Homo sapiens: one gene and its partners. The protein of the gene in region 7 purifies or fractionates together with the protein of the main gene of each other region. This does not show direct contact. Each region holds a gene or a part of one and is shown on either strand. Other genes may lie near its edges. The genes, in order: ABCC10, CEP131, SNX14, ENTPD7, MCM10, LTAP1 and TEX264.

Region 1 (3,500 bases), on a different chromosome or scaffold from region 7:
ACAGAAGCCAGCTATAGAGCACATGCCTCTGGCCCCTGGGCATCTCTCAGAATTAGGAGTATGGCTTTTGTCCCAGCTGTGACCCATGCTTGGTGAGTCTCTGGGCTTTGTAATGATTAGTGCAAGGTAATGGGCACCTAGACAGCACAGCCGTTACGATGTAAGAGACTCCCAGGCACGCTCTCACCTTGCATGAGAAGCAGAGAGAAGAGGATGGCTAAGGCCAAGCCCTGGCCCACGGCCTTCCAGTAAGCTTGGTACACGTGCAAGGCCACGGCGCCCTCCTTCTTGCTTTCTTCCTGCAGCAGGCGACCAGATGTGCTCTGCTCCTCCTCCAGCCCCTCCTTTGTTTTCTCTGGGTTCTGTACTGACTGGGCTGTGGCTGTGAGAATCAGGGGTCATGGAAGAATTAAGCTTGCAGGGTGCCAGCTGAAAACTCAGTATTTCAGAGGAGCGGGCAGCCGTTGTAGAAAAAGCTCTACAGTGTGGCAGGGAAAAGCAAGCCCTTTTCTCCCACTGGGGAGCCATACCTGAGTCAGACTCTTGTCCATTCTCAGCCCAGGCTTTGGGGACAGCTTGTACCAGTGGCAGAATCTCAGAGGGAGGTCCTGGAGGGTAGAAGGGGAGATTGGGAGAGGACTGTTCTGAGTCTATACTATGCCTTTCTCAGTGCGTGTGCAGATCCCACCTCTCATCCTCTCAGGCCTCCCCGTCTAACCCACCCTAGCAGGATACCCCTAGACCTCGAGCAGGACTCTTAGGCCTCCCTCTCTAACCCACCCTGCTCTGGATACCCCTAGACCTCGAGCAGGACTCAAGTCCATCCTTGTAAACCTTGATTCCGACCAGCAGAGAGGGACGAATGTCCATCCCCAAGAGGACCGCCAGAGCTATGCCTGCCACTCTGTCCAGGGTTACTTCTCATTACTGCAGAGCTTTTTCTCATGCTTCGCTCAATTCCTAATATCTGGCTGGAGCTTCATTTCCTCCTATTTCTCTCCCAGTAAACTTGCAGGTGGTCACATCCCTCTGCATAAAAATCTTTCAGAGTTTAAAAATTTTTGTTTTTACAAAAAGACCATTCTAAACCTGACTCCTTTCTCTTCTCTGAAGATATGAGAATGTTCTCAGAGACCCTGGGCCTTTAAGTTCCCAAGAGCACCCAGTCACAAAGCCCATGAGTCCCAAATACACTGGCATTTTACCAACGTACTCCTTTTCCCTCCTGTTCTCCCAGTTCCTCACACCAGTTCTGTGAAGGCGGGAGGCAGCAATGACTGGCTCAGGGCACACATGCAGCAGGGGGCAGAGTCTGTACTTCACAATCCCCTGCCAGACCTGGGCAGACACCTCCCTCACACGGGGCTCCTGCCCCCATTACCAGCCCGGATGAGGCGCCCGGCCTCCATCAGCAGCACCGCGTCAGCCCTCTCCAGGTACTCAGTGCGGTGGGTGCAGAGCAGCCGTGTGGTGTAGCTCAGCATGCCCAGGATGCACCTGTGCAGCAGGTGGTTGGCCACATCTGCATCCACAGCGGCCAGAGGGTCATCGAGGAGATAGAGCTCCTTTTCCTATGGAGACGTGAGGGTACCGTGGGCACCAGGACCCAAAGGCTCTCCGGAGAAGATCTCAAAGTGATCAGAGAAGACAGTTGAGAGAAACTCTGGGGGCTACCCCTACACTAGCAGAGAAGGAGGTGAGACCTGAGGGTGGACATCCCTTCAGGCAAGAAAGAACAGCACCCCAGGGCCAGCACTCAGCTTTCCTAGGTCCCAGGCCCTCAGCCCATATAACACTTTTTTTTTTTTTTGAGACATGGTCTTGCTCTGTTGCCCAGGCTGGAGTGCAGTGGCATGAACACCACTCACTGCAGCCTCAATTTCCCAGGCTCAAGTGATCCTTCCCACCTCAGCCTCCTGAGTAGCTGGGACTACAGGTGCATGCTATCAAGCCCAGCTAAATTTTTTTGGAGACAGGGTTTCATTCTCATCACCCAGGCTGGAGTGCAATGGTGTGATCTTGGCTCACTGCAACCTCTGCCTCTCGGGTTCAAGCGATTCTCCTGCCTCAGCCTCCCGAGTAGCTGGAATTACAGGCATGTGCCACTATGCCCAGCTAATTTTTGTATGTTTTTCAGTAGCGATGGGGTTTCACCATGTTGGCCCAGCTGGTCTCGAACTCCTGACCTCAAGTGATCCACCCTCCTCGGCCTCTCAAAGTGCTAGGATTACACCAACTAACTTTTTAAAATTATTTTTTGTAGAGACAGGGTTTTGCCACATTGCCCAGGCTGATCTTAAACTCCTGGGCCCAAGCAATCCTCCTGCCTTGGCCTCCCAAAGTGCTGGGATTACAGACCTAAGCCACCATGCCCAGCCTACAAATACTTTTTAAAGGCCTTGAACTCTGCCTTAAATCTGCAAAAGGGGATGAGATGGCCAATACCTCAGGAACATGCAAGGGAGGAGGGAAGGAACCAGATGCTAAGGAAAATATTCCTATCCTCCTAACTCAGCCAAGTTCCCAAGGCTCTGGACTCCCCCCACCTCCCTGCCACTGCAACCTCCATCTTTAACTGACCTGGTAGACAGCACGAGCAAGGGCAATCCGGGCACGCTGTCCTCCGCTAAGGGTGACACCCTTCTCCCCCACCTCTGTCTGGTCTCCAGCAGGCAGGATCTGATGGAACAGGTGCCCCAGTGGGTCAGGGAGCTCCCATTACCTTCTGGCCCACTTCCTATCCCTTTGCAGGAGATAGTGGGAGTCAAGAGAAGTAGGGAGCTTGAGGAGAGTAGACTTAAATTTGGGGTGAGCTAGTCAGAGGAGACAAGACATAATTCCAATAACATCAAGCACTTATTGAACACTATGTGCCTAGCACTTTACAGGCATTCTCTCATTCAAGCCCCAATGTAATCTTATGAAGATGGTATCATTTCCTTTTCTCAGGTGCAACCAAAGCTCAGACAGATTAACTAGCTGGCCCACAGCTAGTAAGGGGCAGGACACAAGTTCAGATTCAGATTCTTAACTACTTTGTTACATTTACTACCCTTTTTTTTTTTTGAGACGGAGTCTCGCTCTGTCGCCAGGCTGGAGTGCAGTGGCACAATCTCAGCTCACTGAAACCTCCACCTCCTGGGTTCAAGCGATTTTCCTGCCTCAGCCTCTCGAGTAGCTGGGACTACAGGCGTGTGCCACCATGCCCAGCTAATTTTTGCATTTTTAGTAGAGACGGGGTTTCACCATGTTAGCCAGGATGGTCTCGATCTCCTGACCTTGTGATCCACCCACCTTGGCCTCCCAAAGTGCTGGGATTATAGGCGTGAGCCACCGTGCCTGGCCTATTACCCTGTCTTTTTAACAGGCAAGGTAGTAAGGTATCTTGGGCAGATTTGATGTAAAAGCTTTTATAGGTTTTTACTTTTTTGTGTGTGTGAGACAGAGTCTTGCTCTGTCGCCCAGGCTGGAGTGCAGTGGCATGATCTCAGCTCACTGCA
Region 2 (3,500 bases), on a different chromosome or scaffold from region 7:
CACCACCTGCACAGCAGAACACAGCACCATTCCACAGGGAGCATCCCGGGGCGGGCAGCAACTCTGGAGGCACCCCCGGGAAGGAGCCAGGCATGGGGGAGGCGGAGGCGACCCCAGAAGCAGAGGAGCCGCTGGGGAGCCACGGCCTTCTGGGTGTGGAGCTGTGGAGGATGAGTGCCACCCCTCCCTTCCGGGCCTTCTACTCTGTAGGGATCCCTACGTCCAGGACCATTTGATTGTCAAGGTCTCGGCACCCTCGTCAGGTCAGCTGGGGGCCAAGGCCCCTAACTCCGAGGACTGGGGCCGCCAACATGGGCAGCAGCACAGGAGGCCGAGAGGAGGTCCACAAGGGCTGCACTTCCTTCCTGGCTGCAGTCCACCCCCCAGAGCAGGGCGGGCGTGGAGCCACTCTCACCAGTATTGTTGGCCTTGAGGGCCTGGTGGGCAGTGCCGCCTGGTGTGGGGGACAGCTCCTGAGCAGGCTGCCGCATTCCTGGCACTCTGGTCTCCCTGGGATTCTCAGGTGGCCCACGCTCGGCAGTGCTCGCCTTCTGGGCTCTCAGGGCTCGTTTCTGTTGCAGCTCCTGCAGTGGGAGCATCGCTGAGCACTGTCCCTGGGAGAGGACGACCCCAGGCTCCACAGCCAAGCTGCCCTGAGGCTAAGTGTCCCGGGGCCCAGGGAGCCCCAGCAGCAGCCCCGCACGGTCAGGCCTGGGCCACGGTGCTGCTCAGTGGTCCCTGCGCGGTCAGCACCTGAATGGCTGCTCGCCTGGCTTGGCGTGCCTTCTCCTCCCGGGCCTTCCTCCTGGCTGCCTCTTTCTGCTGGTGCAGGTCCAAGAGGGTCCCCTCGCCTGACCGCTGCCGCTGCTCCTGCCAAAGAAGCCGGTGCCATGTGGCGTTTACATCTGGAAGACGGAATCCAGACCCAGACCAGAGGTTTCCCCACAACGCCCTGGAGTCCCCTAGAGTTCGTGGAATCTCAGGGCCAGCAGGGAAAGTGAAACCCCACCAGGACCTTGAACCTGCCATTTCTCTGCTCTACAGAGGATGAGCCCTACGTCGCAGGTGGCCAACAGTTCTGGCGTGGGGGAGACAGCTCTGCCCCCACAGAACGTCCTCCTGAGACTCTCCAGCCTGGGATGGACCCAGCAGGCGTTTCCTGACACCCAGGCCCTGAGGACCGCCAGTGAGGACCACCCTGACTGTCCGCGGGGACCCAGGGTCAAGAAGGATGCTGCACCCAGAGACGGGGCCCACGAGCAATCCTAGGCTTTGATTCCACCTGTCCCAGAAACTCAAACCCCTGGGATTCTGGGCCAGACCCCCCGGGGGAGCATGGAGTGACTGAGACGCCCACACTGACCTCCCGCTTGGCCTGAAGCAAGTGCTCCAGGCGGGCAGCTCCTGCTCCGCGCCGCTGCACCTGGTGCCGGTACCAGCGCTGGATGGTGACAGTGGCCTGGTTCACCTGGTGGATAAACCTGCCCGGAGAGCAGGACTCAGGGCCAAGACAGGACCAGCGCCCCGGCAGGACCCAGCTGGCTGCTGGTGGAAGGTCGAGCCGGGGAAGAGAGAAGCCGGCGGCTGCACTCAAGTAGCCCTTTTCACAAGGCAGGACCAGCCCACCTGGACCATTTTCACATGGCAGGACCAGCCGCCTGGACCAGCTCCACTAAAACCCAAAACCTTCTTCCTGGGAAGGTGCCCAGGGGAGAGGAAACGCCTACCCACGCAGGCCTGTGTGGCCTTATTTACAATTGCCAGGAAGTGGGAAGAGTTCAAATGCCCATGACCTGGCTACAGCGTGAATACTGGATGGCGGGACCCTACCCACAGGCAACAGGCCCGGGACTCAGGCCAGTGCAGACCACAGGCCGTGGCTCCACAGAGAGGGTGGTCGGAACAGGCAGGGCTATGAGGGAACAGACTGGTGGCTGCTGGCATCTGGGCGGGGAAGGAGCTCGAGGGAAGCCTGGTGGTGCTGGGCCGTTTCCTTATCTTGGTCTGCTGTGTCCACAGACAGCACTATACACCCTGGTGGAATCTCATGGAACTGCACACTTACAATGGGCACCTTCTATTGTATACAAATTATACTAAGTAAAACTGATTAAGCAAAAAAAAAAATGCTTCACCTTGGCTCTCGGGACCATGTGTGGATTCTCTCAGCAAAGGCACTAACAGAGAACCCAGAACGTGTGAGCCCTAGCTCGGGAGCAGTCTGCCCCGGGCAGAACTGGGGGGCTTCAAGGGGTTGCGGGCTTCTGGTCCCCCTTCCCTCGTGCCACCCACCGCGTCTACAGGCCTGGTCTCCCTAGCCCTAACTGGGCGGTAGGGTAGGTGACGGCTCCGCCAGGAGCAGGCTCCGAAAGTCCAGGCAGGGAGGTACCCCCGCGACTGTCCTGACAAGAAACGACTGTCATGGTCACAGGAGGCTCCGCCCACAGCCCCTCCAGCTCCCCAGGGGCAAGCGGCAGGGGCACAGCCCCCAACAGTCATCATCACAGGAGGCTCCGCCCACAGCCCCTGGAGCTTTGGGTGTTGTTGGCTTTTTTCAGTTCTGTATCTTCTTTGCCTTTAATGTTGTTTTAATTAACAGTTTTACTGAGGTACAATTTCCATACTATAAAATCTACCCATTTTCAGTGTACAAGTCAATGATTTTTAGCAAATCTAGAGTTGTGTGACCATCAGCACAGTGCAGTTCTGGAATGTTCCACTGCCCCTGGAGGAGCCCTCTCTGCCACCCCTACACCAGCCTTCGACCTCCTGTGATAAACTTGCCTTTGCTTGGTGTTTTATGTAAATAGAACCACACCACATGGGGTCTGCTCGGTCTCAATATTTTAAAACAGGCCGGGGGTGGTGGCTCACGCCTGTAATCCCAGCACTTTGGGAGGCGGAGGCGGGCGGATCACGAGGTCAGGAGATCGAGAACATCCTGGCTAACACGGTGAAACCCCGTCTCTACTAAAAATACAAAAAATTAGCCAGGCGTGGTGGCGGGCACCTGTAGTCCCAGCTACTCGGGAGGCTGAGGCAGGAGAATGGTGTGAACCCGGGAGGCAGAGCTTGCAGCGAGCAGAGATCGCGCCACTGCACTCCAGCCTGGGCGACAGAGCGAGACTCTGTCTCAAAAAAAAAAAAAATTAAATTAAAACAATTATTAAATGGAAATTTCTATCCTCGGAGGTGTGAGCCCCCCAGACCCTGATGCCTGCCCACCTCTGTGTTCTAGGCTCAGGCCCCCCCCCACCGCCCCAAGATCGGTCACCTCTCAGCCTCCTCCTCCGTCACCTCCTTCCGCCTGGGCAAGCCCGTGCTGCCCCCAGTATTGTTCCGGGCTGAGTGGGTGGCACTGGAGACATTCTTCGGCAGCTTCCCAAAGCCGCTGCTCTCACTGCCCTCACAGGTGGCTGCCTTGATGATGTTGCTGACAGGTAAGAAGAAAACACCCTCGTCTCACCGCCCAGGGGAACAGCTCTGCCCACAGGCAGCAG
Region 3 (3,500 bases), on a different chromosome or scaffold from region 7:
AAGATTACTAAATTAGGTTTTTTTAAAGTGAGAGAAACTATGTGCTGCTTACTAGAAATACATTAAACATTTCAATCAGATAGAAAAAGATATACAAATGAACACTCAAATATAAAGAAAGATGATGTGGCTATATTAACATCAGACAAAGCAGACTTCAAGACTAAAAATTACCAAAGATAAAAGAGGAGCATTTTATAATGATAAAAGAATAAATTCATTAAGAAGATATAACAATCTTAAATGTGTCTGCACCTAATAATGAAGTTTAAAAGATATATGCATTCATACAATGGAATACCACTCAGCAAAGAACAAACTACATATTTATTTATTTATTTTTGAGACAGAGTCTCACTCTGTCACCCAGGCTGGAGTGCAGTGGCATGATCTCGGCTCACTGCAACCTCCACCTCTCAAGTTCAAACAATTCTCCTGCCTCAGCCTCCTGAGTAGCTGCGATTACAGGCATGAGCCAACACGCCCAGCTAATTTTTGTATTTTTGTCGAGACAGGGTTTCACTATGTTGCCCAGGTTGGTCTCGAACTCCTGACTTCAAGTGATCCACCTGCCTCGGCCTCCCGAAGTGCTGGGATTGTAAGCATGAGCCACTGCGCCTTGCCCAAACTACTTATTTAGACAAAAACATACATGAACTTTAAAAAGCATTATCCTGAGTGAAGGAAGCTAGGCACAAAGGAGTACATATTATGTGATTCAATTTATATAAAAAAAATTATACAGGCAAAACTAATCTGTGCTGAGAGAAATGAGACCAGTGATTGCTTTGGCAGGAGTAGGGGAAAGAGTGGATCTCTTGGGAAGGATCCTAAGGGAATTTTCTGGGCTGATGGAAATAAATGTTCTAGATCTTGATAAAGATGCAGGTTACGTGGATGTACACACATGCAAAACTGATCAAACTATACATTTAAATTCCATGTGTTTCACTATATAAATTATACCTCATTTTTAAAGTTATATTTTAAAAAGAAATTAAATGCATTAAAAACAATATTTTCAGTCTATAAAGTTTCTTATAAATCCAATAATCTATAATGCTACAGAGCTTATAATTAAAATGAGGTATTCTTATATTTGATAATTTAGTCAAAACAATCCTTTACAAAAACTGTGAAAAAGTGATATTGACATGGGCTACAGTTTGGGTTTTTAATATATTTTCATTATACTGTACTTTTAGTATTTTTTTTTTCTGCTACTAGGATTTGAATGAAGTTAGTGACAGATTATTTCCCAATCTGGAAAGAAGTGGGCACTTGAGAGAAACCCACATATGCTCTTAGAAAATCAAGTATATGGCCGGGCGCGGTGGCTCACGCCTGTAACCCCAGCACTTTGGGAGGCCGAGGTGGGTGGATCACCTGAGGTCGGGAATTCAAGACCAGCCTGACCAACATGGAGAAACCCCATCTCTACTAAAAATACAAAATTAGCTGGGGTGCTGGCACATGCCTGTAATCCCAGCTACTTGGGAGACTGAGGCAGGAGAATCGCTTGAACCCAGGAGGCGGAGGTTGCAGTGAGCCAAGATCACACCATTGCACTCCAGCCTGGGCAACGAGAGTGAAATTCCGCCTCAAACAAAAAAAAAAAAAAAAAAAGGAAATCGAGTATATGAAATTTAGTACAATGATAGATGGGTACCACAACATCAGATCTGATTTAAAATATTCAAATACATTAAAAGGTTTAAAAATTACTTTCGTAAAATACACAGGTAAGCCTCACCCACAGTCAAACAAAACTGCAACACGTGCACTGCGCCTTCTTGTTTCAGAAAGTTCATAAAACGAAATAAAAGATCTTGTTGCTCTCTGATTTGCTTCAATTCTAACTTCAGCACCTTGATATAAGAGAAAGATTAAGTTTAAGCTATATAAATGAGTTCTAAAATTGTTTATATCAAAAAGGTGTTATTGCTGAAAATTCTTACAGATGGCTTTTTATTTCTAGGTTCTGCAAATTTCTGCAAGAATGGAACCAAAGGAGAAGCCGGTTCAGTTGCTTTTTCAGGCTTTGAAAGAAAGAGAATTATTAACTCAGTAAAATTCCCACTTGATTTGACATACAAAATCAAAATTCAATGCAATCTGAAGTGTTTTCTAATATATTCAATACTCACTGGACTGTCATCTATGAAGATGATAAGCAAATGATTCACAGTATCCTAGTGGAAAATAATAAACATAAGTCAAAATAATTCCACTACTGTATTCTCCCCAGAATTCTCATAACTTGTATCATATTATGTAAGTTTCTAGAAAAATGAAAAAATAAATGGAGCAGTAGCAAAAAATCTGCACATATGTATTACAGCAGGAGTTTTTTTACATCTACAAAACAGGTTCTTAACCTTTGTGAAAATGGGCAAATAAAAGCTATTCTGATTTTGGCATTTAAAATATTTCTAAATCATTCTTGTTTCTTCAAAATCTCACTGGATCAAAGGTAGAAGCATCCAAAGTGTCCATCAATGGATGAACAGATAAGCAAAACATGTTATACACATACAATGAAATATTACTCAGCCTTGAAAAGGAAGGAAATTCTGACACATGCTACAACATGGATGAACCTTGAAGACACTATGCTAAGTGAAATAAGCCAGTCACAAAAAGACTAATACTTATGATTCCACTTATATGTGGTACCCAGAGTAGTCAAATTCATGGAGACAGAAAGCAGAATGGTGGTTGCCAGGGGGGGCTGGAGGGAGGAAGGAATGAGGAGTTATTGTTAACAGATGCAGAGTTTCAATTTCATAAGATGAAGAGTTCTGGAGATGGGGAATGGGGATGGTTGCACAACAATATGAATGTTTTCAGTATCACTGACTATATACATAAAAATGTTTAAGATACTAAATGTTATATTAAGTGTAATTTGTAACAATTTAAAAAAAAATCTTAAGTCTTACTGGATCAGCTAGGAAATCCAAAGAAGGAAGGAACACAGAGCCAGACAGAATCTCTCTTATAAGTAAGGTCAGAGATCTGGAAAAAGAAATAATAATAATTGTTTATATTTAGTGATTTATATTAGTTCTTAACTTTCAAGTGCATGTGAATTACGTAAGGATCTTGTTAAAATGGAGACTATAATTCAGTAGGTCTTGGTTAGGCCCTAAAAGTCTGCATTTCTAACAAACTCTCAACCAATGTTCATGCTACTGGTTTGCAGAACACACGTTGAATAGCAAAGAGTTAGAGTTCTTACTTGGCTAAAATAGAATATTACTTAAGAGAAGAAAAAGTATTCCCTTAACAGGAGGAACTTGGGGGACATTAGGAAAAACTCTCTATCGGCCGGGTGGGGTGGCTCACGCCTGTAATCTCAGAACTTTGGGTGGCCGAGGCAGGGGGATCACAAGGTCAGGAGTTCAAGACCAGCCTGGCCAACATGATGAAACCCCGTCTCTACTAAAAATACAAAAATTAGCTGGGCATGATGGTGCATGCCTGTAATCCCAGCTAAT
Region 4 (3,500 bases), on a different chromosome or scaffold from region 7:
CGACATGGTCTAATTATGGACTTCCATGTAGGTTAGTTAATATGGCTAAAGACAATTAGGGAGTGAATGGTGAGCTGTATGGCTGGAGAGCTAGATCAAGCTGAGTCTGTTAAGCTATTTTAGAGGGTTTAGGCATTACCCTCAGGGCAGAAGGAAGGCTTTGAAAGGTTTTGAAGAGTGAAAAGGTTGGAACTGCTTTTTAATTTTTTTTTTTTTTGAAACAGAGTCTCACTCTGTCACCCAGGCCGGAGTGCAGTGGCGCTATCTCGGCTCACTACAACCTCCGCCTCCCAGGTTCAAGCAATTCTCCTGCCTCAGCCTCCCAAGTAGCTGGGATTACAGGCATGTGGCACCATGCCCAGCTAGTTTTTGTATTTTTTAGTAGAGACGGGGTTTCACCATGTTGGCCAGGCTGGTCTCGAATCCCTGGCCTCAAGTAGTCCACCTGCCTCGGCCTCTCAAAGTGCTGGGGTTACAGGCATGAGCCATCGTGCCCAGCCAGAACTGCTTCTTAAAGAAAGCTCACTTTGGTGGGATTGTGGAAAAAGAATTGGAGAGGAATGAAAAAGAAAGCAGGAAGAGTAATTGAACTAGAGATGCTCCTTGACTTATGATGGGTTATGTAAATTGAAATATCATAAGTTGAAAATGCATTTAATACACCTAACCTAACAAATGTCATAGCTTAGCCTAGCCTACTTTAAAGGTGCTCAGAACATTTACATTAGCCTACTGTTGTGCAAAACCACCTAACAGAAGGCATATTTTATAATAAAGTATTGAATATCTCATGTAATTTATTGAATACTGTACTGAAAGTGAAAAACAGAATGGTTGTGTGGATACTCACGGTATACTTTCTACTGAATGTGCATCACTTTTGCACCATCATAAAGCTGAAAAATCATAAGTTGTACCATTGTAAGTCAATGACTGTACCTCAATAGAGAGATGGTTGTGGTTGCAAGAGGATGGAGAGAGGTAAAAGCATTTAAATGTATGTGGGTGGCAGAGTGATCTGATAATTCTTGTCTATCACTGTATCCCAAGTGGTCAGAGCCAATAAATACTTGGTAGGTTGAATTAATTGAAACAAGTTAGCAATAGAGCTGAGGAACACATAGACTGTGCCACTGTGGCGACCTCACCAAAGTCCTAACACCCTGGAATGCTGTGGCTCAGAGCTCATTGTTACTTAATGAAAGGTTCTGTATATATTGCCACAAATGACCATTTATCATTAAACTTCACTCAGGGCAGCCTCCATGAGTCATTTAAGAGGCAAACATTTATTGAGGGTTTGCTGTGTCGATGACTCTATGATAGCACTGGAGTACAAAGATGACTAAACATAGCCCCTGAACTCAAGGAGTTCGTAATCTAGTTAGAGAGGCAGGCATAAAGGAAAAATTATTTCCCAGTGAGATAATAGTTTAGGTACGGTTGTATAGAATCAGGAGTGAAGAATCAGGAACTATGTACAAGGTTAAGAATTAGGAACAAAGCTAAGAATCAGAAATTAAACAGAAGAAGTTCTTGAGCAACCAAATTTGATATCACTAAGTTCATGTGCTAAAAGCACCTGTACTTTACTGATAAGATAGGCTCTCACATAAAGCCTGTTAGCTTTTATTTTACACACTGTTCTCATTTGCATGGTTCTCACTTGTCTCAGAACACAGTAGATAACAGCAAATTGGAATGGTGGGTGGGGTGTGTTGTTAGATGTGGGCACATTATGACAATAATCAGTTATATCTGGCATCTTGACAGTGAAGCAGGAGAGAGGAAATTTAATAAAGATAGACTCAATAACTCAAAATTTCTACAGACAGTTTCTATAGTGGTAAACAGTTCTACATATGTTGTTAAAACTGTTTTATTACATAGTCTAAAAATTTATGTTAATGAAATGATAATCTTTTTTTTTTTTTTTTTTTTTTTGAGACAGAGTCTCACTCTGTTGCCCAGGCTGGAGTGCAGTGGCATGATCTCAGCTCACTTCAACCTCCACCTCCCAGGTTCAAGCGATTCTCATGCCTTAGCCTCCCGAGTAGCTGGGATTACAGGTGCGCACCACCATGCCCGGCTAATTTTTGTATTTTTAGTAGAGACAGGGTTTCACCATGTTTGCCAAGCTGGTCTCAAACTCCTGGCCTCATGTGATCCACCCACCTCAGCCTCTCAAAGTGCTGGGATTACAGGCGTGAGCCACCATGCCTGGCCATTAATGATAATTTTAAATCAGAGGTTTTCAACCTTTGTGTATCTAAATCACTTGGGGACCTTTAGAAAAATGCAAATAATTGGGACTCTTCTCAAGGTGAATCTAATATACCACCTGGGTTGAGAAAAACTGCTTTAAGATTTGGTTACATTTACTTAAGGAGGTATTGTGAGGTAAGGGAAAGAATGTTAATATTAGAGTTAATCAGCCCATCATTTGCTAGTTGGGTAATCTTGGGCAGGTTTCTTAATATCCTGGAATTTCATATTCTTTATATATAAAGTGAGAATAAAAATAGCTGTCTTTTAGTCTTGTCATTTGCATAAGAAGAGTAGAGCATCTAGGAATGTCAGGTGCATTGATTGACTAATCAAATGTCAATCTATTATTTGAAATAATCTTGATTTTTCTGTTTTCCAATTCTCTTCTCTGCCTGAAAATATACACTGAAGATAATGGGCGTTATAATCTCTATTTAAAATTTTGATGAAATGATTAAGCAAGTAACTAGGAATTGGTAGAAACACTTGCTACCTTAATTTAACAGCTTAAAAAAGTTTTAACACAAGCGCCTGTAGTTGTGATTTTTTTATATTATATTCATATATAGACATATTTTTTCTACTTAAATTGTTCCTAATTCACACAGTGAAATTATATCCGTACTTTGTGGTGTCCCTCAGAAAGTGTGCTGTCTTCCAGGAACCCACTTACACGTGTCTTCATGGGAGCAAGTTTGCAAACCTTTGATCAGGAAAATGTGCCTAGAGGAACACTACATGCATTCTTTATTTTATTTTATATATCTTTTTTTTTTTTTTTTGTAGAGACAGTGTCTCCCTATGTTGCCAAGCGTAGTCATGAACTCCTAGGCTCAAGCAATCCACCTGCCTTGGCCTCGCAAAGTGCTGGGATTACAGATGTGAGCCACTGTCCTAGGCCCATTCATTGTTTTATGGTCTTGACAAATAAGGCATTGCTTTAATTAGAAATGATAGTCTCTCTTGCACATTGCATCTTTGTATTTTAATATATATGAAAGCAGTTAATGTTTAAAATATTTTAATTACTTTTGCATTGAAAACAGATATTTCAATGTGAACTTTTTATAGGCATTGGTGGAATTTAACATATCACTTTTCAGGGGATATTAACCAGGACTTTAGAAGCCTGTCAGGGGGTTTTCTCTCAGTAGTTCCAGAACTAAAGACTTACATTTTTTTTCTTTATTGTGAACATGTATCCATATTGCTTCTGGAAAGAGAGAGTAGGA
Region 5 (3,500 bases), on a different chromosome or scaffold from region 7:
ATACAGAAGCGGTAAGAGGAGCAGATTTAATATTCCCCGCTTGGGTCATCCATCTCAGGCGTCCTCAGAACGTCTTCATCGATTTCCAGAATGTGACTTCAGGTTTCGGTTGGCTGCGTTTTAACTCTGAAAGTTTAAAATAGTTTTCCCATAACCTGAATAGCATTTAAGGCTGTATTATTTCTTACACTGGTGACTCCCAACACCAAATGGTACAGGTTAGAGTCGTTATCACCATGGAAAAGGGAAAGGAGTGAAGTGTATGTAAAGAGGGTTTTTGTGAAGGGGGAGAGCGTAGGTTCACATGCTGGCTGTCATTTTCTCTCTCTCTCTCTTTTTTTTTTCTGAGACGGGTTTTCACTCTGTCACCCCAGCTGAAGTGCAATGCTGCAGTGTCGGCTCACTGCAACCTCCATGTCCCAGGCTCAAATGATCCTCCTGCCTTGGCCTCCCAAGTAGTTGGGACTACAGGCATGTGCCACTATGCTTGGCTAATTTTTGTATTTTTTTATAGAGACTGGGTTTTGCCATATTGCCCAAGCTGGTCTCAAATTCCTGGACGCAAGCCTGGATTTGCCTGGCTGCCATTTCTGGGTTTTGCCGCAATTCAGTTTTTTATGACAGGCAGAGCCAGTGAGTAGAATACAGTTCTTTGGATAAAGGACAAAACTGAAGCACTAAAAATGGAGAGTCATTTTAGAGGCAAAAGCAAGTGGAAATGTGTTACTTGGCTTCAGCCAATAATTAAAAAAAAAAAAAATCAAGTGGAAATGCATAGGGTAGGTGGACAAATGAATGATTCCTGAACTCAGGTCACCTGAATACTAATGAGAGCTGCGGTTCACAGGCACTTCATACGTACTCCATAAACACAGTATCTGAGCCTCCGGAGGCTTCTCAGCCTTGTTTTACTAATAGTGTGCCTGGAGATCAGAGAGCTAGTTTATGGTGGGGCCGAGTTTTGGGCTCACACATGTTGTGCTCTGGTGCTGAACCTTTTGCCATCCCGAATCTGGGCTGCTGAAAGGCAACCACATCCATGAAAGGGAGTCAATGATAAGACAAGAGGAAATTCTTTGGGAAAGTAAGAGAATGGGTTTGGTCTCAGGCAGATTAGTTTGAAGTGCCGGTGGGATATCTATAGAGCTATTCATCTTGAGCCTACAGATGACATAAATTATATACGTGGACACAGAAATATGTATGGAGTTGGGGGCCTCGTGGGAAATAGAGAATGCCCATCAGCTTGAAGGCATTGCGTAATGAAAATTTTCAGAATTTTGTTGGCCAAGGAAACCTTATCTTTGCGTAGGATTTGATAGGCAGTTTGCAAACACAGCCTAGAGCTTGCAAGAGTGGCTGTGCGGTTGGGAAGAGTACTGCTCTGGGATGGCCTGGCTCTAATCCTGAGTCTGGCCCTTGTGAGTAATGTGATCCTAGGCCTCAGTTTCTTCATCGATCAAATGAGAAGTTTGGACTAGATGATTTCTGGGGTTTGTTATTTGTTTTTAAATATCTCTTATGAGGCTGGCTTGGTGGCTTATGTCTGTAATCCTAGCACTTTGGGAGGCCGAGGCAGGCAGATCGCCTGAGCCCAGGAGTTTGAGACCAACCTGAGCAAAATGGCGAAATCCTGTCTCTACAAACAGTACAAAGATTAGCTGGGCATGGTGGTGCACACTGTGGACCCAGCTACTCGGGAGGCTGAGGTGGGAGGATCACCTGAGCCTGGGAGGCAGAGGTGGCAGCGAGCCGCAATCGTGCCAACGCACTCTAGTCTGGGTGACAAAGCAAGACCCTGTCTCCAAAAACAAAAGTAAAATAGCTCTTAAAACTATTTTTTGCCAGGCATGATAGCTCACGCCTATAATCCCAACACTTGGGAGGCTGAGGCACGAGAATCACTTGAACCTGGGAGGCAGAGGTTGCAGTGAGCCAAGATCATGCCACTGCACTCCAGCCTGGGTGACACAGCGAGACTCTGTCTCAAAAAAATCAAAAAAAAGAAAGGGGATGTAAAATAATCGCTGCAAGTTACAGTGTTTTTCATTAATGACTTCCAAATGTCTCACATGTATTGTCTCTTCCCAGTAGCATAAACAAAGATGCAGGGAGGTGCAATGAGTTCCTACAGGCCCTAGAGCTGACGGTAGGGGTGGGAATACAGTTCACACCGCGTCTTCAGCTGTGTTCCTTGTGGATGACATCCACTGGACAGCCAATTGATAAAAACAGTTATCAGTTCTAAAGTGTTAGGACAATTACAGCTTATTCAAAGAAAACTCAATTAAGGAGGAGTTAGTAAAGCTAGTATTGTTCTTATCGTGTGCAAATTTGAATTACCAGCCTAGAAGGGGACATTATTTTGCTAACAACTAGCTCCCAACTGGTGGCCTGCCTGCCGCCTCCCAGTCCACTTTGAGTTCTAGAGTTTTTATTTTCGTAAACCCTGTTTGCGTATTTTGACTGTATGTTCTTTAAAGATTTCTGCAGAGCTCAAGTGAAGTTGAGAGCCCAGCTGTGCCATCTTCATCAAGACAGCCCCCTGCTCAGCCTCCACGGACAGGATCCGAGTTCCCCAGGCTGGAGGGAGCCCCGGCCACAATGACGCCCAAGCTGGGGCGAGGTGTCTTGGAAGGAGATGATGTTCTCTTTTATGATGAGTCACCACCACCAAGACCAAAACTGAGTGCTTTAGCAGAAGCCAAAAAGGTAACTGGCATCTCTTCTCTTTAGCACTTGAGTTTGCATTCTGTAGAGCAGAGCTGGAGGAAAGACAGACACCTAATAGCTCTTTATTGATCGTGATCATTAGAGTCAGTGTAATTTGAAAACATGGTAGTGTCAACATAATACTAAAAGAAAGTTAGATCTGTTATCTCAACACTTTTTCTTGTCAGGCTACAAGAGGTAGCCTAGAGGAAGATAGTGTTTTATAACCAGAGGCATTGACAGTAGGAAAACAATGCTTGGAATTGTTGAGGTGAGACTGTAAAATGGTGGTTTAAGGAATCCTTTTTTTACGTTTATTTATTTATTTATTTATTTATTTATTTATTTATTTATTTTTTGAGAAGGAGTCTCACTCTGTCACCCAGACTGGAGTGCAGTGGCGCAATCTCGGCTCACTGCAACCTCCTCCTCCCAGATTCAAGCGATTGTCCTGCTTCAGCCTCCCGAGTACCTGGGACTACAGGCGCCTACCACCACGCCCGGCTAATTTTTAGTAGAGACATGGTTTCACCATGTTGGCCAGGCTGGTCTCGAACTCCTGACCTCAAATGATCTGTCCACCTCGGCCTCCCAAAGTACTAGGATTATAGGTGTGAGCCACCATGCCTGGCGGTTTTATTTTTTATTTGTTGAGACAGACTATCCCCCTGTCACCCATGCTAGAGTGCAGTGGTGCAATTATGGTTCACTGCAGCCTCAACCTCCCAGGATCGATTCATCCACCTGCCTCAGCCTCCCAAGTAGTAGCTGGGACTGCAGGCACATGC
Region 6 (3,500 bases), on a different chromosome or scaffold from region 7:
GGTCAGGCTGGTCTCAAACTCCTGACCTCAGGTGATCCACCCACCTCAGCCTCCCAAAGTGTTGGGATTACAGGCATGAGCCACCACGCCCAGCCTGGGGAATATTTTTAGGGTTATGCCTAACACCAGTCTTTTCCTCAACAGGTTGCTACAACTATCTGTATAGGATGAAAGCTCTGGATGCCATTCGTACCTCTGGTAAGGGCTACCTGACAGGGTCCATTCTAGGATCCTGAAAGCCCACCTAGGGAACAGAGTAATGAACCCACTTTGTATGTTAGGATTTGTCCTTTCTGCACATCCCTGGCTAGTAGGAAATTCTAGAGTTTTGAAAGTACTAGATTAGAGATTTTGCTGAAGGAAATGATATAAGCAGGTTATTCTCCAAAGAGTCTGGGTGTTTTGTTTTTTAAAGTTCTTCTCTTGAGACCTTTAGTTTCATGAAGTAGATGATAGTAATTTGCTTGTTTTTCCACAAAGGACAGGTGGCACCTGCTTTTTCACTAAGCCCAAGATAGATTGTTCTTGAATTTTTTCCATTCTGTCAACACTTGTCATATATGCTTTATCTCTATGAAAACAGTTTATATCTTAAACCTAGGATGGATGAGTAAGCAGGATGGTAAAATGTGTGATGACACTATCATGTGTCATAGATGTAGCTTACAACTGTGGTGTTACCACCAAATGACCACTCAGGCACAGCTTTATACCTTTGGTCTCAATCAGAATCTCCCTCTAACTCAACTTGCTCATTTCATTAGACCTATTTCTTTTTATTTTTGAGACGGAGTCTTGCTCTGTTGCCCAGGCTGGAGTGCAGTAGCACGATCTTGGCTCACCACAACCTCCACCTCCTGGGTTCAAGCGGTTCTCCTGCCTCAGCCTCCCGAGTAGCTGGGATTACAGGTACCTACCACCATGCCTGGTTAATTTTTGTATTTTTAGTAGGGACAGGTTTTCACCATGTTGGCCAGGCTGGTCTCAAACTCCTGACCTCAGGTGATCTGCCTGCCCCGGCCTCCCAAATTGCTGTAATTACAGGCGTGAGCCACTGCGCCCAGCTTCATTAGACCTACTTCTAAGTTTGGGGAATTAACTAGAAAGACTAAAGAATGGGGCAGGCGCAGTGGCTCATGCCTGTAATCCCAACGCTTTGGGAGGGCGAGGCAGACAGATCACAGGAGGCCAGGAGTTCAAGACCAACCTAGCCAACAAGGTGAAACCCTTTTGTATTTTTGTCTCTACTAAAAATACAAAAATAAGCCTGGCATGGTGGTGCACATCTGTAATCCCAGCTAATCAGGAGGCTGAGACTAGAGAATTGCTCAAACCTAGGAGGTGGAGGTTGCAGTGAGCCAAGATCACTGCCACTGCACTCCAGCCCGGGTGACAGAGCGAGACTCCATCTCAAAAAAAAAGACTAAAGAATGAGAAGAGATATCATTGTGCTGTTTTCTCCACAGAGATCCCATTTCATTCTGAAGGCCGGCATCCCCGTTCCTTAATGGGCAAGAATTTCCGCTCCTACCTGCTGGATCTGCGAAACACTAGTACGCCTTTCAAGGGTGTACGCAAAGCACTCATTGATACCCTTTTGGATGGCTATGAAACAGCCCGCTATGGGACAGGGGTAAGCCAGTTTTTTCTTCGGGGCACTAAAGAGATCCCTCAGACTGAGAGATCCTCACTCTTCCTTTCTCTTTCCTAAGGTCTTTGGCCAGAATGAGTACCTACGCTATCAGGAGGCCCTGAGTGAGCTGGCCACTGCGTGAGTTTGGAGGGGAACGTGTCAGAGGGAGCTGGTACAGTAGTGTTGGACTGTTGCCACAGTGCAGTGACCTTCATAAAGCATATAAACAAAATCCATGATACCATAAGAGTTGTCAGGTTCTAGACTATTAGATCAGTCTCTTACATTAGAAAGCAGATGCGGCCGGGCACAGTGGTTCACGCCTATAATCCCAGCACTTTGGGAGGCCGAGGCGGGAGGATCATCTGAGGTTGGGAATCCGAGACCAGCCTGACCAACATGGAGAAACCCCGTTCTCTACTAAAAATACAAAATTAGCCGGGCGTGGTGGCGCATGCCTGTAATCCTAGCTTCTGGGGAGGCTGAGGCAGGAGAATCTCTTGAACCCGGGAGGCGGAGGTTGCGGTGAGCCAAGATCGTGCCATTATACTCCAGCCTGGGCAACAAAAGTGAAACTCTGTCTCAAAAAAAAAAAAGAAGAAAAGAAAGCAGATGCAACTATACAAGCTAGTAAAAGAAGTTTTTACTAGCATTTTTCTTGTGTGCATTTTTCTTGTCTTTTGTTTAGCCCAATAAAATGTCAAAATTGGTGTAGCCTAGCAAAGGGAATAGTTTTTCAGCACACACAGGGATTCCTTCTCTTCAGAGTCTCAGCGTCCCTTTTGTGTCTTGGCCCAATAAAAGTAAGAATTAAATAACATTGGGCCGGGCGCGGTGGCTCACGCCTGTAATCCCAGCACTTTGGGAGGCCGAGGCAGGCGAATCATGAGGTCAAGAGATCAAGACCATCCTAGCCAACAAGGTGAAACCCTGTCTCTACTAAAAATACAAAAATTAGCTGGGCATGGTGGTGCGTGCCTGTAATCTCAGCTACTCGGGTGGCTGAGGCAGGAGAATCGCTTGACCCCAGGAGGCAGAGGTTGCAGTGAGCTGAGATCACGCCACTGCACTCCAGCCTGGTGACAGAGCAAGACTCCATCTCAAAAAAAAAAAAAAAAAAAAAAAAAAAAAAAGAATTAAATAACATCTATTTTTGGCCGGGCGCGGTGGCTCACGCCTATAATCCCAGCACTTTGGGAGGCCGAGGAGGGTGGATCACAAGGTCAGGAGTTCAAGACCAGCCTGGCCAACATGGTGAAACCTCGTCTTTACTGAAAATACAAAAATTAGCTGGGCATGCTGGCGGGCTCCTGTAATACCAGCTACTCGGGAGGCTGAGGCAGAAATCACTTGAACCCGGGAGGTGGAGGTTGCAATGAGCCGATATCATGCCATTGCACTTCAGCTGGGGTGACAAGAGCATGACTGTCTCAAAAAAAAAATAAAAATTAAAAATTAAAAAAATCTATTTTTACTACCACTTAAAGTATTAGTAACCATGTCTGAAACAAAGGCCATCGCTATAGAGTCAGCTGTTGAGCATTTGTGTCACAGGAGAGGATTCATGGCTTTTGTTTGGGAATGTTTTTAATACACACTAAACATAGTCTCGTATTTTCATGCAAATGTTAAAATCAAAGTTCTTGGCGAGAAAGGAAAGCCAATCTAGAGTAAAAACTTAGGCCGGGCGCAGTGGCTCACACCTGTAATCCCAACACTGGGAGGCCGAGGCAGGTGGATCATCTAAGGTCAGGAGTTCAAGACCAGCTTAACCAACATGGTGAAACCCCATCTCTACAAAAATACAAAAATTAGCCGGGCATGATGATGTGCGCACCTGTAATGCCAGCCACTCAGGAAGGTGAGG
Region 7 (3,500 bases):
GACCTGTTCATAGTAGCTGCTGCTGGAGCTGTTAGCCTTGTGCCCTGGAGTCCTGTATGGGAAGAGGCTGCAGGTCTGGGTGAGTGGTTCTTGTGAGGCAGGAGGAAGGATTCCATTCTCCATCCCTGAAACCCTTGGCATGGTTGGGAATGGGAAGGTGGGGAAGAAGTCTTTTGGGAAGTGGACAGACCCTGGCAGGGGCTCATGGGTGTACTCACCCACCTCAGAGCCCAGCATTCATGGAGTGTGGGCCATTCCTCTTCAAGGTATGCAAGGGATGGGGTATGAGTTCAGAGATAAGGATCACATGTAGGCGGATGTCAGTCACAGATCTCCCTTACACACACTGGTCCATACTGCCCTTGCATGACTGGGGAAGGGTCCTGACTAGAAAAACTGCTCTGCCTTTAGCCCTGCTTCTGCGGTGGGTGCTGGGGGCTTGGAAAGTGACTTCAGGCTCCCTTTTGGGGCCTGGTCCCTCTGGGAGCCTTCAGTGTTGGAGGGGAAGGAAGGAGCTGAGAGGACCCTGAGTGCCTCGCTTGATCCTGGCCAGCTCTGGCCTGTGGACAGGCCCTAGTGGCTGGGCTGCTATCACTGTGCCTGTGGGCCCATCCTGTCTGCCAGGCTGGCTCTCTACCTCCTGCCCCACCCTGTGCCACCATCACCTCTGCTGCTATGTTTGGGGCTTAAGCAACCTGCCTGCTTGCTTATATGGGGAGCCTGGCTGGGGCAAGATGGGTGTGGCAGCTAGTTCAATTTATGTGGCCCAAGTGGGCCTATATTTGCTGCTTACATCTACTACCTAGGAGGTGGTGTTTGCTCCAGGCATGGAGTGGGTTGGGGAACTGGTGGTACTTGCTTCTGCCTTTAGTAAACAAGACTGCCATTGAAGCCCCCTTTCCCTTAGTCCAATGAGAACCAAGGCCCAGGGCCACTAGGTCTGCAGGGGCCTGTGGTCATTTGGCTGGCATGACCACAGCCTCACAGAGGCTGGTGAGAGTTCTGATGTAGGCCTGTGTCACACTCCCTCCTCCCTCAGTGTGTGTGGAGAGAAGGCTCCCTGCCCTCCCTGGAGGCACTTAGTTTGGGTGGAGCCTGGGAAGGGGTGAGGGAGTAGGATTTCCCAGGACTGACCTCCTCAACAAAGGCAATGGGAATGTGGGCTGGGATGTTTCCTGAGGGCTCAGGCCGCCCCCTATCCTGGTTACTCCATGGTTATTTTCTGCCAGGTGGAGTCCAGGCATTTGCTGTGCAGCAGGTTAACTATGTGGGACAGGTCTGGAAGCACGAGCTCCTCTCTGCCCACTAGAACTGTCCTTGAGGTGAGGTGAGACGAGGTGTGAGAGGAAGGGGCTTCGGATTTGCCCTTCTGGGTTTGAATCAAGGCTCCACTGCTAACCAATGTGTGACTTTAGGTGAGTCACTTGGCCTGTCTGAGTATGTCTCCTCATCTGTCACATGAGGATAAAAGAATCCCTACCTCAGGGTTTTTGTTTTGTGGGGGCTAATTGATAATGATATGGCCCAATACCCAGTTCTTTAAATAGGTGGGTGTCACACTTGACATCCAGTCCTGCCTGAGGACCTCATGCCACTGGGACTTTGTACTTTTAGGGACCCTGCCTGCCTCTCTGGTTTAGTCCCAGCCTCCTGCAGGTTGTCTGGGCCATGTGAGGCGGCACAGTGCAGGGAAAAGCCATTGTGCAGCCCGCTTTCACTAGGGCCAATTTCCGGGACTCCTGGATGCCCCTGGGTTGTGTGGCGCAGCTCTGAAGCTGGTCTGCTTGAGTTTGAATCCTGACTTCAGCACTCCCTTGCTGTGTGACCTTGGCTGAATGGCTTGGTTGTCTGGGCCTTGGGAACAGGGTTGAAAACAGTACCAACCACAGAAGGCTGTTTGGATTTAATGAGCTTATGCTTGGAAGGCAGAGTCTGGGGAAAGTGGTGAGTGCCTGGTCAGATATCAGCTGTTTTTAGGATTCTGTTTGAAGGTGTAGGGTTATAGAGGAAGGTTCCTGAAAGGTTTCTAAGTAAACTCACCTTTGAGGGCTGGTATCTTGTTGACTCCTTTCTTTCCTCCCGAGCCTGAAGAATGAGGCTTGTCCTCTGGCCTAGCTGTCTGCATCATCTCGTGTCCTGACTGGTGCCTGTCTCCGTGTGCCTTTGGGCATAAGCTTCCCAGGGAAGTTGGGGGTTGGCGTGTTGACCTGTAGCACCTAGGAGGGCAAACGAGGTCCCGTATCAACCACCTAGTCATGGGCCAGTGCAGCTCGTCTATTCCCTTGGGAGTACAAGTGCAAATGAAGGGCCCTGCCTCTACTTTCCCCCTTAACTTGGGTAGCTCTGGGTCAGTGGGCTGGCATGGGAAGAGTAAGGGCAGCCCTCTGTGCCTGGGTTTGAGAGATGGTGCTGCTGTCCCTGTCAGGTTGTGTAGGTTGTGGGCCTGGGGTTGGCAGTTTGTATTAACCCTGAACCCAATGACTACATTTGGTCTGGGCCGCTGACACCATTTCTCATTCCTGCATCCTGGAAGATTATCAGTCTTGTCCAGTTCCCAGACTCAGCGAGGTCTTGGCTTGGCAGGGGCCCCGAGATGGCTGTCTTCGCTATAGCCTCACACAATAGGGTCGGCAGGGCACTGTGACACCACTCAGGAAGGGGCAGTGGGGCCAGCCTTGGGACTAGCTCGTACCTGGAAGCCTCAGGTTCTAAGCAGACTGCCCTCTCCTCCCAGTAATGGGACTCAGGAGGCTTTTCAGCCCAAAGGAGATGCTCTGGGGCCTGGCATGCCTCTGTTGTTTTCCTGGTACTCTTGCTTTGAGGACACATCCTGGATGGGCTTGTCTTTACCCCGAGTGGTGGTGGGTCTGGCCACTGCCCTGTTTCCCAGATGTGGTTCCTTGTAGGTACTAGTTCTGGTCCAATTCTTGTTCTGGGCAGAGGTACCCAGAGAAATAGCTGATCTGGGGAGGAAGAGGAGCAGGCAGGTAGGGCTGGGAGGCCCAGGCCTATGTCCTAGGGTTCGGCCCAAATACAGATACTCATTGAGCCAAGGTGGATGGGGTCTCTTGCCCATCAGGACATCCCAACCTTCTGGGCACTTGACAGCCTTAGTAGGCCTTTTCCCTGGAGGCGGGTCTGGGCTTTACTGGGAGGCCAGGAAAGCTTTCCTCTGCCACTGGATCAGCCTTGCCACTCCCTAGGTTATTTTAGGGCCTGTCCCATTTCCTCCTTGCTGGTGCCTTGTTCAGCTGCTTCCCAGCTTCAACTTTGCATGGGGCCACTTAGTGGGTGGTAGGCTTGCTGAGAGACCTTCTAGGCTCCTCCTTAGGCCAGGGCAGGGGAGGAGGTAGGAAGTGTTCTTACTTGTGGAATTAGGGAGTTGCTTAGCCAGGAAAGGAGCTGCTGTGCCCCACACACCTCCTGGATCCTGGGAGCCCTGTCTTCTTAGCTCCCTTCTTCCACTTTGACAGGAGCTCTGCCTTTTCTCCAGGTGGAGG

The links.
Region 1: the proteins of TEX264 (region 7) and ABCC10 purify together in Homo sapiens (affinity purification with mass spectrometry; 3 studies listed by BioGRID and IntAct, with this or other methods). This does not show direct contact.
Region 2: the proteins of TEX264 (region 7) and CEP131 purify together in Homo sapiens (affinity purification with mass spectrometry; 3 studies listed by BioGRID and IntAct, with this or other methods). This does not show direct contact.
Region 3: the proteins of TEX264 (region 7) and SNX14 purify together in Homo sapiens (affinity purification with mass spectrometry; 3 studies listed by BioGRID and IntAct, with this or other methods). This does not show direct contact.
Region 4: the proteins of TEX264 (region 7) and ENTPD7 purify together in Homo sapiens (affinity purification with mass spectrometry; 3 studies listed by BioGRID and IntAct, with this or other methods). This does not show direct contact.
Region 5: the proteins of TEX264 (region 7) and MCM10 purify together in Homo sapiens (affinity purification with mass spectrometry; 3 studies listed by BioGRID and IntAct, with this or other methods). This does not show direct contact.
Region 6: the proteins of TEX264 (region 7) and LTAP1 purify together in Homo sapiens (affinity purification with mass spectrometry; 3 studies listed by BioGRID and IntAct, with this or other methods). This does not show direct contact.

What each region holds. Positions count from the first base shown.
Region 1 is NC_000006.12:43,441,041-43,444,540, reverse strand, and holds part of ABCC10 (ATP-binding cassette sub-family C member 10), read right to left. Parts: intron 2,680-3,500; coding exon 2,581-2,679; intron 1,572-2,580; coding exon 1,382-1,571; intron 640-1,381; exon of another isoform or gene 609-639; coding exon 531-608; intron 383-530; coding exon 188-382; intron 1-187. UniProt on the Homo sapiens protein: ATP-dependent transporter of the ATP-binding cassette (ABC) family that actively extrudes physiological compounds, and xenobiotics from cells.
Region 2 is NC_000017.11:81,198,966-81,202,465, forward strand, and holds part of CEP131 (centrosomal protein of 131 kDa), read right to left. Parts: intron 3,434-3,500; coding exon 3,275-3,433; intron 1,482-3,274; coding exon 1,364-1,481; intron 871-1,363; coding exon 754-870; intron 585-753; coding exon 416-584; intron 7-415; coding exon 1-6. UniProt on the Homo sapiens protein: Component of centriolar satellites contributing to the building of a complex and dynamic network required to regulate cilia/flagellum formation.
Region 3 is NC_000006.12:85,545,359-85,548,858, forward strand, and holds part of SNX14 (sorting nexin-14), read right to left. Parts: intron 3,019-3,500; coding exon 2,943-3,018; intron 2,193-2,942; coding exon 2,148-2,192; intron 2,040-2,147; coding exon 1,959-2,039; intron 1,869-1,958; coding exon 1,754-1,868; exon of another isoform or gene 1,726-1,753; intron 1-1,725. UniProt on the Homo sapiens protein: Plays a role in maintaining normal neuronal excitability and synaptic transmission. May be involved in several stages of intracellular trafficking. Required for autophagosome clearance, possibly by mediating the fusion of lysosomes with autophagosomes.
Region 4 is NC_000010.11:99,666,009-99,669,508, forward strand, and holds part of ENTPD7 (ectonucleoside triphosphate diphosphohydrolase 7), read left to right. Parts: intron 1-3,500. UniProt on the Homo sapiens protein: Catalyzes the hydrolysis of nucleoside triphosphates and diphosphates in a calcium- or magnesium-dependent manner. Preferentially hydrolyzes nucleoside 5'-triphosphates, with substrate preference for UTP > GTP > CTP.
Region 5 is NC_000010.11:13,192,558-13,196,057, forward strand, and holds part of MCM10 (protein MCM10 homolog), read left to right. Parts: coding exon 1-11; intron 12-2,483; coding exon 2,484-2,712; intron 2,713-3,500. UniProt on the Homo sapiens protein: Acts as a replication initiation factor that brings together the MCM2-7 helicase and the DNA polymerase alpha/primase complex in order to initiate DNA replication. Additionally, plays a role in preventing DNA damage during replication.
Region 6 is NC_000001.11:154,210,591-154,214,090, reverse strand, and holds part of LTAP1 (protein C1orf43), read left to right. Parts: intron 1-144; coding exon 145-198; intron 199-1,466; coding exon 1,467-1,633; intron 1,634-1,712; coding exon 1,713-1,771; coding exon of another isoform or gene 1,772-1,775; exon of another isoform or gene 1,776-2,630; intron 2,631-3,500. UniProt on the Homo sapiens protein: General regulator of phagocytosis. Required to uptake Gram negative bacterium by macrophages.
Region 7 is NC_000003.12:51,677,752-51,681,251, forward strand, and holds part of TEX264 (testis-expressed protein 264), read left to right. Parts: intron 1-3,500. UniProt on the Homo sapiens protein: Major reticulophagy (also called ER-phagy) receptor that acts independently of other candidate reticulophagy receptors to remodel subdomains of the endoplasmic reticulum into autophagosomes upon nutrient stress, which then fuse with lysosomes for endoplasmic reticulum turnover.